Linked DNA regions of Homo sapiens: region 2 is reported to be linked to region 1. The links are microRNA targets in miRTarBase. Many come from high-throughput screens and were not tested one by one. Region 1 holds a microRNA gene; the other region holds the end of a gene's coding sequence.

Region 1 (4,387 bases):
AGCAGCACCTCATGCCTAGGGTTCCCAGATGAGACTGTCCACAAGGAACCCTTGGAGACCACATTAAGCATCTGGTGCTTTGGCAGCTTTCCCCTCAGTGTGGACTTGCAAAGTGCAGTGGGCTTACAGCCACCAAGCCAGGGCAAGGCAAGCAGTGCCCACCGGGAGAGTGGAGTGTGGGCTTCAGGGGGCTGGAGGGGTGAACACAGTGGATGCTCATTATAGACACCAGCAATGAGGCCCCAGACCACTTTCTAACAGAAATCCCACACCTCAACCACCCCTAAAAGACAACAGCACTGAAAAGCCTTGGCTTATTTTCTTAAATAAAATCCAAACACAAATAAAACCCAAAGGAGGCCAAGCTGAGCCACTTGTTCTCAAAGCTTCTGGCTGGTCTCATGTGGGCATTCGGGGATGAGGAGTGGGGGTTTATCTACACAGAACTGGGGTCAGAGGGCGGAAGCCACGGTTGGGGAGCCCGTGGGCTGGCCAGGGCATCGGCACACTGAAGGTCACAGACTGTGGAAGCTGCCCGTGGCACCACATGGCTCAGTTAAACTACCAGCCAAGAGAGGTGTGTGACAGGATGTTTGCCGATGTAGAAACATGTATTGTCGCAAGGCCTAAAAACCACCATCAGATGGTAGCAAGCCGAGGGCAGGGACTGTATTTCATTAGTTTTATACATCCCAAGGCTTCATCTAGAACAGACATTTAAAGTGGATGGATGCTAAGAATTGACAAGCTCTTTGGAGTAGTTGCCACATCAGACCAAATGCAGGACACATTCATAGAGTTAAAACAAGTTTGGTTTTCCTAGAGTTGGCGTATGTGGGTGATGGGGAGGAAGTGCTGCTTGCTCAGCGTGGCAAGGAGCTGCTCATGCAGGGACGAAGCAAACCTTTTTCCACTGAAGTATTAGGAGGACGATGAAGACGACAGACTTTTCAAAAATCATGATCACGATGTAAAGAGCGCACTGCCCGACCCAGGCTCCACACTGCAGAGGGTCTCCTGCAGGGACAGGCGGGTGCTTAGTCACATGGGGCCCAGGCATCTGAGTGAGATGATGTCCCCACCCCACTCCCCCACACGCACCCCAGAACACTGGCTCTAAAGCTCTAAAGGTACTTAATGAGCCCCCCCAAAAGTCCAAAGGATTACCTCATCCTTAACAGACAAATGCAGTATTTTAAATAAAATCAGAGAATTCCTTATTTGAAGATACTAAAATGGCCTTTCTTTTAAGAGATTCTAAGATAGGATTAAAAAGCACTAAAGTTAGGAAGTGCTCATTGCTGGAGCTCAGAAAAGCTGTTCTTTCTGCCGGCTGGCAGCAGAAGCTGTATGAAGCAAGACTGCTATTCTTATCCGTTGTTGATTTTTCCAGTGACAGCGGGGCTGCCCCTCCCTTCTCTGTCCATGAGTGGACTGATGTTTGTGGATGATGAAGCAGGACCCAGTCGCTTTGTTTGTCTCCCACCTCCCCACCTCCCATCCCTTACCCAACTCCCCGGGCCATCCCTGATACCTCAGCCTCTTGAGAGCAGAAACGTGACTCTGGAGGAATTTGGACTCTACCTGTCCAGCATGGGTCACCCCAAACACCTTGGCCAGGGACAAGGAAGTGAAGAGAGAAGTCCTTGGGGCAAGGAGGTGGGAGGGATGGGCCGGGGCCCAGGGCTGTGACAAAGGTCCATCTGGGACCCCTTCAGTCACCATGCTTGAGAAACCGAGGGACCTAGTAGTACAAGCTGGAGGATGTGCAGGCCTTGGAATGCCTCCAGGACATTTTGAACGGAGAGAAGACCAGCCCCTCCAGGGAATGATCCTGTGATATGAAGAACCCTAGGGTGGCTCCTGGGAGCCACATAGGCCTCCCCAAAGTGGGAGACCCAGGGGAGAGTGGGATGTGGGAAGGTTGCCTGGGGCTCACCCTGGAAGTTCTGCCAGAGCTGCCTTACCACAGCTGGCCAGAAGAGGGGGTACAGGGTAGCATTTTGGGGGTGGCGGGGGGGCGGGAGGCTGGGGGGTAAAGGCCGTAATCCAGGCTATGAGAAGATAATTTGGTCCAAAGAGATATCTCCAGCTTCTCACTTGGCTTTATTGTTTCTGCAGCAATCCCTGTTTGGGCACCCATGCTGGAGGCCCATGCCCTGCCCAAGCCTGTCAGCTGTACACAAGGGAATGACTTTATGCAGCTGCAATGGACAAAACACCAGGCCATTCCCTTTTCTGGAAAACCCTGGGAGAAGTGTGGCAGAAACACATCAGTCGCCTCTTCTGAGGTCTTCCTTTCTACTTTCACTTAAGGGATAGGAGACATTTGAGCCAAAAAACCCATTTCATAAGCATAATCCCTCCTTGCTAGGTTGTTAATGAGTTTTGCAATCCTTTTCCTTTCGGTAAGTCACCTAACCTTATCGAGAACAGTTCTCAAAACAACAGATGAACTTATTTGTGAGAAACCATTAAGTAATTAAGTAGGTTTGAGGACAGTTGGACAGAAAGCGCCACTAGGAAATCTCTCTGTGAGGACTGGAGTGTTTGGGAGCCAGCGGAGCGCGCGGCACCGCTTATTTACTATGGAAGGATGTCCGCTCGCTCAGTGTGCTCACTCCATCTGCTCTTCAGTTTTAAGTGACTGACAAGGAGGAAAATGCTTTTCCTCCCATACGCCTCACATTGCCCCAGTGTTCTAGGTTTCTGCTACACAACTTAGCTACAGCTGCCTCTTTAGATGCTAAAATAAGAAAGTTCAGAAACGTGAGAAAAGAGAAAAAGCACCTGTGACCCCGTCTGGCACACCATTTCCTCTGGGAACCCAGATCTCACGCAGCCACCGTTGGGAGAAGCACACGTGGCTGCTGTGTTTCCTGATTCCTGTTTCACTTGCGAGTCTTTCAGATGTCCCCCACAGTCTCCTCTTTAAAGGACAGACATGCCAGGCAGTGTTGCATGTCCTGCTTTGTCATTGCTGTTATTGTTTTCTTAGAGATGGGGTCTCACTCTGTCATTCAGACTAGAGTGCAGGGGCATGAACACGGCTTATTGTATCCTCAAACTCCTAGGCTTGAGTGATCCTCCTGCCTCAGCCTCCCAAGTACCTGGGACTAAGAATGCATGTCATGTGCCTGGCTAATTAAAAAAAATTTTTTTTTTTGTAGAGACGGGATCTTGCTTTGTTTCCAAGGCTGGTCTTAAGCTCCTGGGCTCAAGCGATCCTCCCCGCTTAAGCCTCCCAAAGTGCTGGGAATGACAGGTGTGAGCCACTGCACCTGGACCTTGTGTGTCTTGCTTTTTACTGCAATGAACAACCTCAGGCATGTGGGTGTTTTGTTTGGGTTTAATTATTTCCTCAGTAGAAGTCACAGCAATAGGGGCCAAAAGGAGGGAACACATCTGTGGCGAGAGGCTTTCAAAAGGGAGAGTTTGGCCAGGGATGGGCAGCAAGACCCATGAAGCACCGTGACCCAGATGTCAGGGCTTCCACATGGGAAAGAGTGGCCTGGTAATCAGAGTGCAGACACCATGCGTCACCTGGATCTGGTCTCAACCGCCGGGGCTGTGTGGCTTATTTCCCTGAGTCCCGCATTCTCATCAGCAAACTCTTGGCCTTCTCTTCTAGGAACAAAAGACACATCCTAGAAAAATAAGCCCCTCTTCTTCATTTACATGAGAAGAGAGCTGTGGTACCTCTTCCTCAAATGGATGGGCAGGATAACAGGTGTGGGAGGTGGAATAACAGCCCCACACAGTTGCCTACATCCAAATCCCTGGAACCTGTGAGTGTGTAGCATCACATAGCAAAGGGGAATTGAGGCTGCAAATGGAATTAAGGCTGCTAGTCAGCTGACTTTAAGACAGGGAGAGTGTTCTGAGTGTCCAGGTGGGGCCAATGTAATCACAAGGACACTTTAAAGTAGAAGGCTGCAGGAAGTCAGGGCAACTCGATGTGGGATAAACCCAGCGACTCTTGTTGGCTTGGACGACGGAAGGAGGGGCCGCGAGCCAAGGCTTACAGGCAGACTCTAGAGGCTGGAAAGGGCGAGAAAACAATCTTCCCAGAGGCTCCAGAAGCCAGCCCCATTGACACTGGGACTTTAGCCCAGTGAGACCCATGACAGACTTCTGAACAAAAAAAGATAATCAACTTGTGTTGTTTCAATTTGTGCCATGAAGTTTGTGGAAATCTGTTACAGTAGCAATAGAAAACAACAGAAATTGATGGAAATAGAAAACAACAGGTAACTGAGCAGACAAGCTATCCTTCCTCAGCCTGGGGAAGACTCAGGATGGTCCCCACAGCTTTATTTGGAGACATTCTGGCTTGAAGACTCTGGCTCCCAAAGGCAGTGGTGGGATGACCCAGGGGCAGGGGCTG
Region 2 (4,387 bases), not on the chromosome of region 1:
AGGAAGGAGTGGCAAAGAGTGTGGACACGTTTCAAAATCATTGCGTCACCTTTTCTTTGGCCTGCTGTGAATGTCCAGTTGAAAATCACAGATGTCCTCTATATACCCTATGCCTCTGGAGCCCTTCTTAGTTATTGTCTCTCTCTGCTACTAGAGTGCCAGCTCCTGGGACAGGGATTTTGGCCTTTGCTGCCAGCCACCTCCTGGCTGACACCTGGTCACCTGCACCTTACTCAGTTTGAATGACTTTTTATCTTTTGAGACAGAGTCTCACTCTGTCGCCCAGGCTGGAGCACAGTAGCGTGATCTCCGCTCACTGCAAGCTCTGCCTCCAGGGTTCAAGCGATTCTTCTGCCTCAGCCTCCCAAGTAGCTGGGACTACAGGTGCCTGCCACCACGCCCAGCTAATTTTTTGTATTATTAGTAGAGATGGGATTTCACCGTGTTAGCCAGGAAGGTCTCGATCTCCTGACGTCGTGATCTGCCCGCCTCGGCCTCCCAAAGTGCTGGGATTACAGGCGTGAGCCACCGCGCCCGGCCAATTTGAATGACTTTTGTAACAACTCAGATCTCAAGTTTGTTACTGATTTCTCTTTTTTTTTCTTTTAAGGAATGTGTTTACTGTGAAAACAAGGAAAAAGGTAATATTTGCATACCATATGAGGAAGATATTCCTTCTCTGGGACTCAGCGAAGTGTCGGACACCAAAGAAGACGAAAATGGATCCCCCTTGAATCACAGGATCGAAGAGCAGACGTAACCCCTGCCCCACCTCAGCCCGGCAGCCAGCGAGGTACACCAGGTGGTGCTTGGAAGAGATGAAAGATCTTCATGGCTGTTTCCACTGAAATGGACACATATGCTCATGTTGCTTTTTTTGTTTTAGAAAAAAAAACAACATAGTTTTCTGAAGGGGCGACTTAAAACTGTGGAGAGTGGGGAGAGTTCGGAAAGAAATATGTTTTTATATATAAAATATATATGTGGAGTTTTGTGGGATGGGGAAGAGATTTTAGTTGTTATTTAACTTGAGAAAGACTAAGCGCCTCTTAGTGTCAGGGAAGTTGCCTCAGTGCTCCCAGAAGTCCTGTGACTGTGACGAGACCTCTGTCTGCTGCACCAGCTGGGGACTCTGGCTTCCAGAGCTTTCCCAGGGTGTTTGGATCAGATCAAATTTTGTCCTCTCTTGGGGACTGCTTTTTATCTGAATTATCATTTAGTCAAGGTAGAGTGTTTTTTTATACATACCAAATGGAGATAGCAGCCTCTCCTAGTTTTATTTCAAAACGTTTCACATTAAATGGTGTGAAGCGTTGTTTGGCAAACCAACAGCTTTGGCTTCTGGTGTGGTCAATATTTCAGTCTGACATAGGTTTTGTTTGTAGTGAACAAAGTTGAAACATTTGCTCTGGACTAAAGAAGCCTAGTGGTTTGTGTGGCCAACTCCATCGGATGAATGCACACGCAGACAGACCCTCTGTATATTTCTGCATTATTCTTGTCTCCTTTTCAGACCATGATGGCCAATATGGAGATTAAAATATGTCATCAGTCATCTCTTTATGGTGACTTCCCTTTGCAAACCAGGCTGTGACCAACACATGTGAGACCCAGTCCTGTTTGGTTTTCTTCCGTTGGAACCACCCAGACATCTGCTTCCACCCAGCCAAGCCCACATCACATCTCCTGGCCGAGAGCAGCCACTGCCACTCAGTCTGACAGCTTGCGACTGCATCTGTATTTTCAGGGGTGCAGTGAGCTCACCTCTCCCACTGCACCCTGGGTTGGGTGCACAGCCCTCATTCTTTTCATGAGCCCGACCTCTCTCGGAGCAGCTTCAGGCCTCTGCCAGTGTCCCCAGCACTTTTAGGTCATTTGGACACTTGGGGAAAAGTGAGGCCAGTCTGCCCGGCTTTTTACAAAACCTCATGTTGCATTGTATATTCCAAAGATGGTTCAGAAAATTTAATATTGGTCCCTGGTGGAAATTCAAAGTTATCACTGAAGAACAGTTGACTTAAAATTGGACCAAGACTATGAGGCTTAAAAGGGACCAGGGTTTTCTTTTTTTTTTTTTTTTTTTTTTTTTTTTAGATGGAGTTTCTTTTTGCCCAGGCTGGAGTGCAGTGGCGCCATCTTGGCTCACTGCAACCTCTGCCTCCCAGGTTCAAGCGATTCTCCTGCCTCAGCCTCCTGAGTAGCTGGGACCACAGGCGACTGCCACCACACCCAGCTAATTTTTTGTATTTTTAGTAGAGACAGGGTTTCACCATGTTGGCCAGGCTGGTCTCGAACTCCTGACCTCAAGCGATCCACCCACCTCGGCCTCCCAAAGTGCTGGGATTACAGGCGTGAGCCACCACGCCCAACTGGGACCAGGGTTTTCTGTTTTTTGATGGAGGTGAAATCTCTTTGTAATCCACTAGGTTTTCATCGTAAAACCATCTTATGCCTGACTATTAAACCTATTCTTCATAAACACAAGAACACTTTAATTTTTCGTTAATTTACAAAGTAACATCAGCTGCCTATGCCTATGATAAGGTAGCAGTCTGCATTCTTATGGCCATTAGATGTTACAAACTCCTTGCCTCTAAAGTCAGATCATGAAGGGATAGGTGTTCATCTAAGGTTACAGTTATGTTACCGAAACACAAAACTGCCAAAATCTTACTCTGCTGTTATGAATGTTTACCATCAGCATTATTTTATCATTTAATATGTGCTCACTGATTGTTAACTGTAGCTTCAGCGCGTGCCAAGCAGTTGACTTAATAGGATCATCTTGTGAATTTGTTTACGTGATGCCAAGCATCAAGTCATGTTTTCTTTAGTGTGTGTGCTTACACAGGTGTTAAACAGTTTTTCTCTATTTTAAACTGAGCCTTCTTTTTAATATATTCCCGAAGAGATATGTAAATAAGCTCTCAGAGTTTCTGTGATGATTTGTTGAGCCTTGCTGGACAAGTGGTTTGTTTGTGTGCAAACCAAACTTTCTTTACCCAGTGCAATAGATTTGTTTGACTGCTTGTGTCTTTTTATGACCTGTTTGCCTTTTAGAAAATTGGTAAATAAAGCAAGTATATTTTTATTTTTACTTGTATGTATTTTTCACATAGCACAAAGGAAAACCTGAATAGAGAGCAAAGATTATTTAAAAAAAATTTTTTTAAAGAACTCCAGGAATTCTGCATTAAAGAATCTTACATCCCAAAGGCCTCCTGGCGGTCAGCTCCCTTATAGCGTTTGCTTCTTGCTGGCTCCCTTTCTTCCTGTGCGTGTCACACACACACCCTCCTTCAGGCTGCAGGAGTGAACTCACGTAATGCAAACCTAATCGTGTCATGCCCCACAGTCTTTTCACTTTTAGTTGGAGGGGTGCAGCTGTCTGGCTCAGCCCCAGAGTGCCCCCAGCTCTGCCTCCACGCACCTCTGTCTTCCCTGCATCCCTGCCCTGGGTTACCTGGCCTTTCCAGGCTGGCTGCCTGTCTTCTGGTCATCGGGCTAGGTAGGGCTAAAGGTGGGGCGGTCAGGAGGCTCCACCAGGAAGGTCACATGTCTCCATTGCGAATGATATGGGCAGGGCGGCATAGTCCCCTGACCCCAGCCCTTCTTTCACAGTGATGAATGAAGCCTTGTGAGGCCAAAACTGTGGAAGCCCGAAGAGTTGCTCCCCATCCCTCCCACTCTTCAAACCATGACCCTGGGGGTGGGAGCAGAGAGCTGAATGGATCCTGAACCCAATGCCCAGCCTCTGAGAAGCTCCCTGAGCAGAAGGGAGGGGCTCTCCTCTGCCTGCTAGCCTGGCTGCCTAACGCCAAGTGCTGATGGGATAAAAGGCAAAGTCCTCCCTAGCGAGCACAGAGGCCTCTGCAAACTGCTCTAAATGGCCAGATATGGTTGTTTCACTGAACCTGAGTGCTTTTGGAAGACTCTTAATTGTATTTTTATTTACCATATAACCCCAAGGGATTTATTTCCAAACCAAACGGAGATTCTCTGAGTCTCCTGGGCAGATTGCCCACAAGGGGCCTGGACAGTCTACAGGCCGCAGCTGCCTTTGTTCCCCCAGGGATTTATGGCCTGCCACCCCCACTGCTAACTGGTATCCCCGCAGCAACCACCACCCTGCCCAGCCTCTGCTGGCCTCTGTTCCTGGCTCTAGGGGGATCAAAGGACTCAAATGCTCAGGAAGTCCATACTCAGGCAAACTTTGAAGGCAGGACTGGCCCAAGGGACAAATGGCAGGAAGTGTTGGCTAGGGGAGGCTGCTGTGAAGGAGGGAGGGAGGGCTTGGTGACCTCAAGATAGGCCAGGCTTCTGGGACAAAAAGGCCATGCCAGCTGGCCAGTGCACCGCTAAAGGGAATTGAAGCTGACCTTGCAGA

What was found. The annotated mature microRNA hsa-miR-8064 reads AGCACACUGAGCGAGCGGAC and lies in region 1 at 2,599-2,618, opposite strand. An mRNA with a match to its seed (bases 2 to 7 or 8) in the 3' UTR can be bound and repressed. Matches are read on the target gene's strand: a 7mer-m8 pairs with bases 2 to 8, a 7mer-A1 pairs with bases 2 to 7 and ends in A, and an 8mer does both.
Region 2: miRTarBase lists PER2 as a target of hsa-miR-8064. Seed matches in the 3' UTR shown: 7mer-A1 at 2,979-2,985.

Annotation. Positions count from the first base shown.
Region 1 is chr3:52,843,925-52,848,311 of GRCh38, forward strand. It overlaps MIR8064 (microRNA 8064), which reads right to left and starts at 2,628; the gene lies at 2,539-2,628. STIMATE-MUSTN1 (STIMATE-MUSTN1 readthrough) reads right to left here. Exons shown (of 10, transcript NM_001198974.3): 5 at 905-1,017. It overlaps STIMATE (STIM activating enhancer), which reads right to left. Exons shown (of 8, transcript NM_198563.5): 5 at 905-1,017. RefSeq lists an enhancer at 561-1,061.
Region 2 is chr2:238,242,748-238,247,134 of GRCh38, reverse strand. It overlaps PER2 (period circadian regulator 2), which reads left to right. Exons shown (of 23, transcript NM_022817.3): 23 at 611-3,091. The coding sequence ends at 760. Among named protein-coding and RNA genes, the nearest start is that of HES6, 4.9 kb to the right of the region's middle. RefSeq lists an enhancer at 1-987.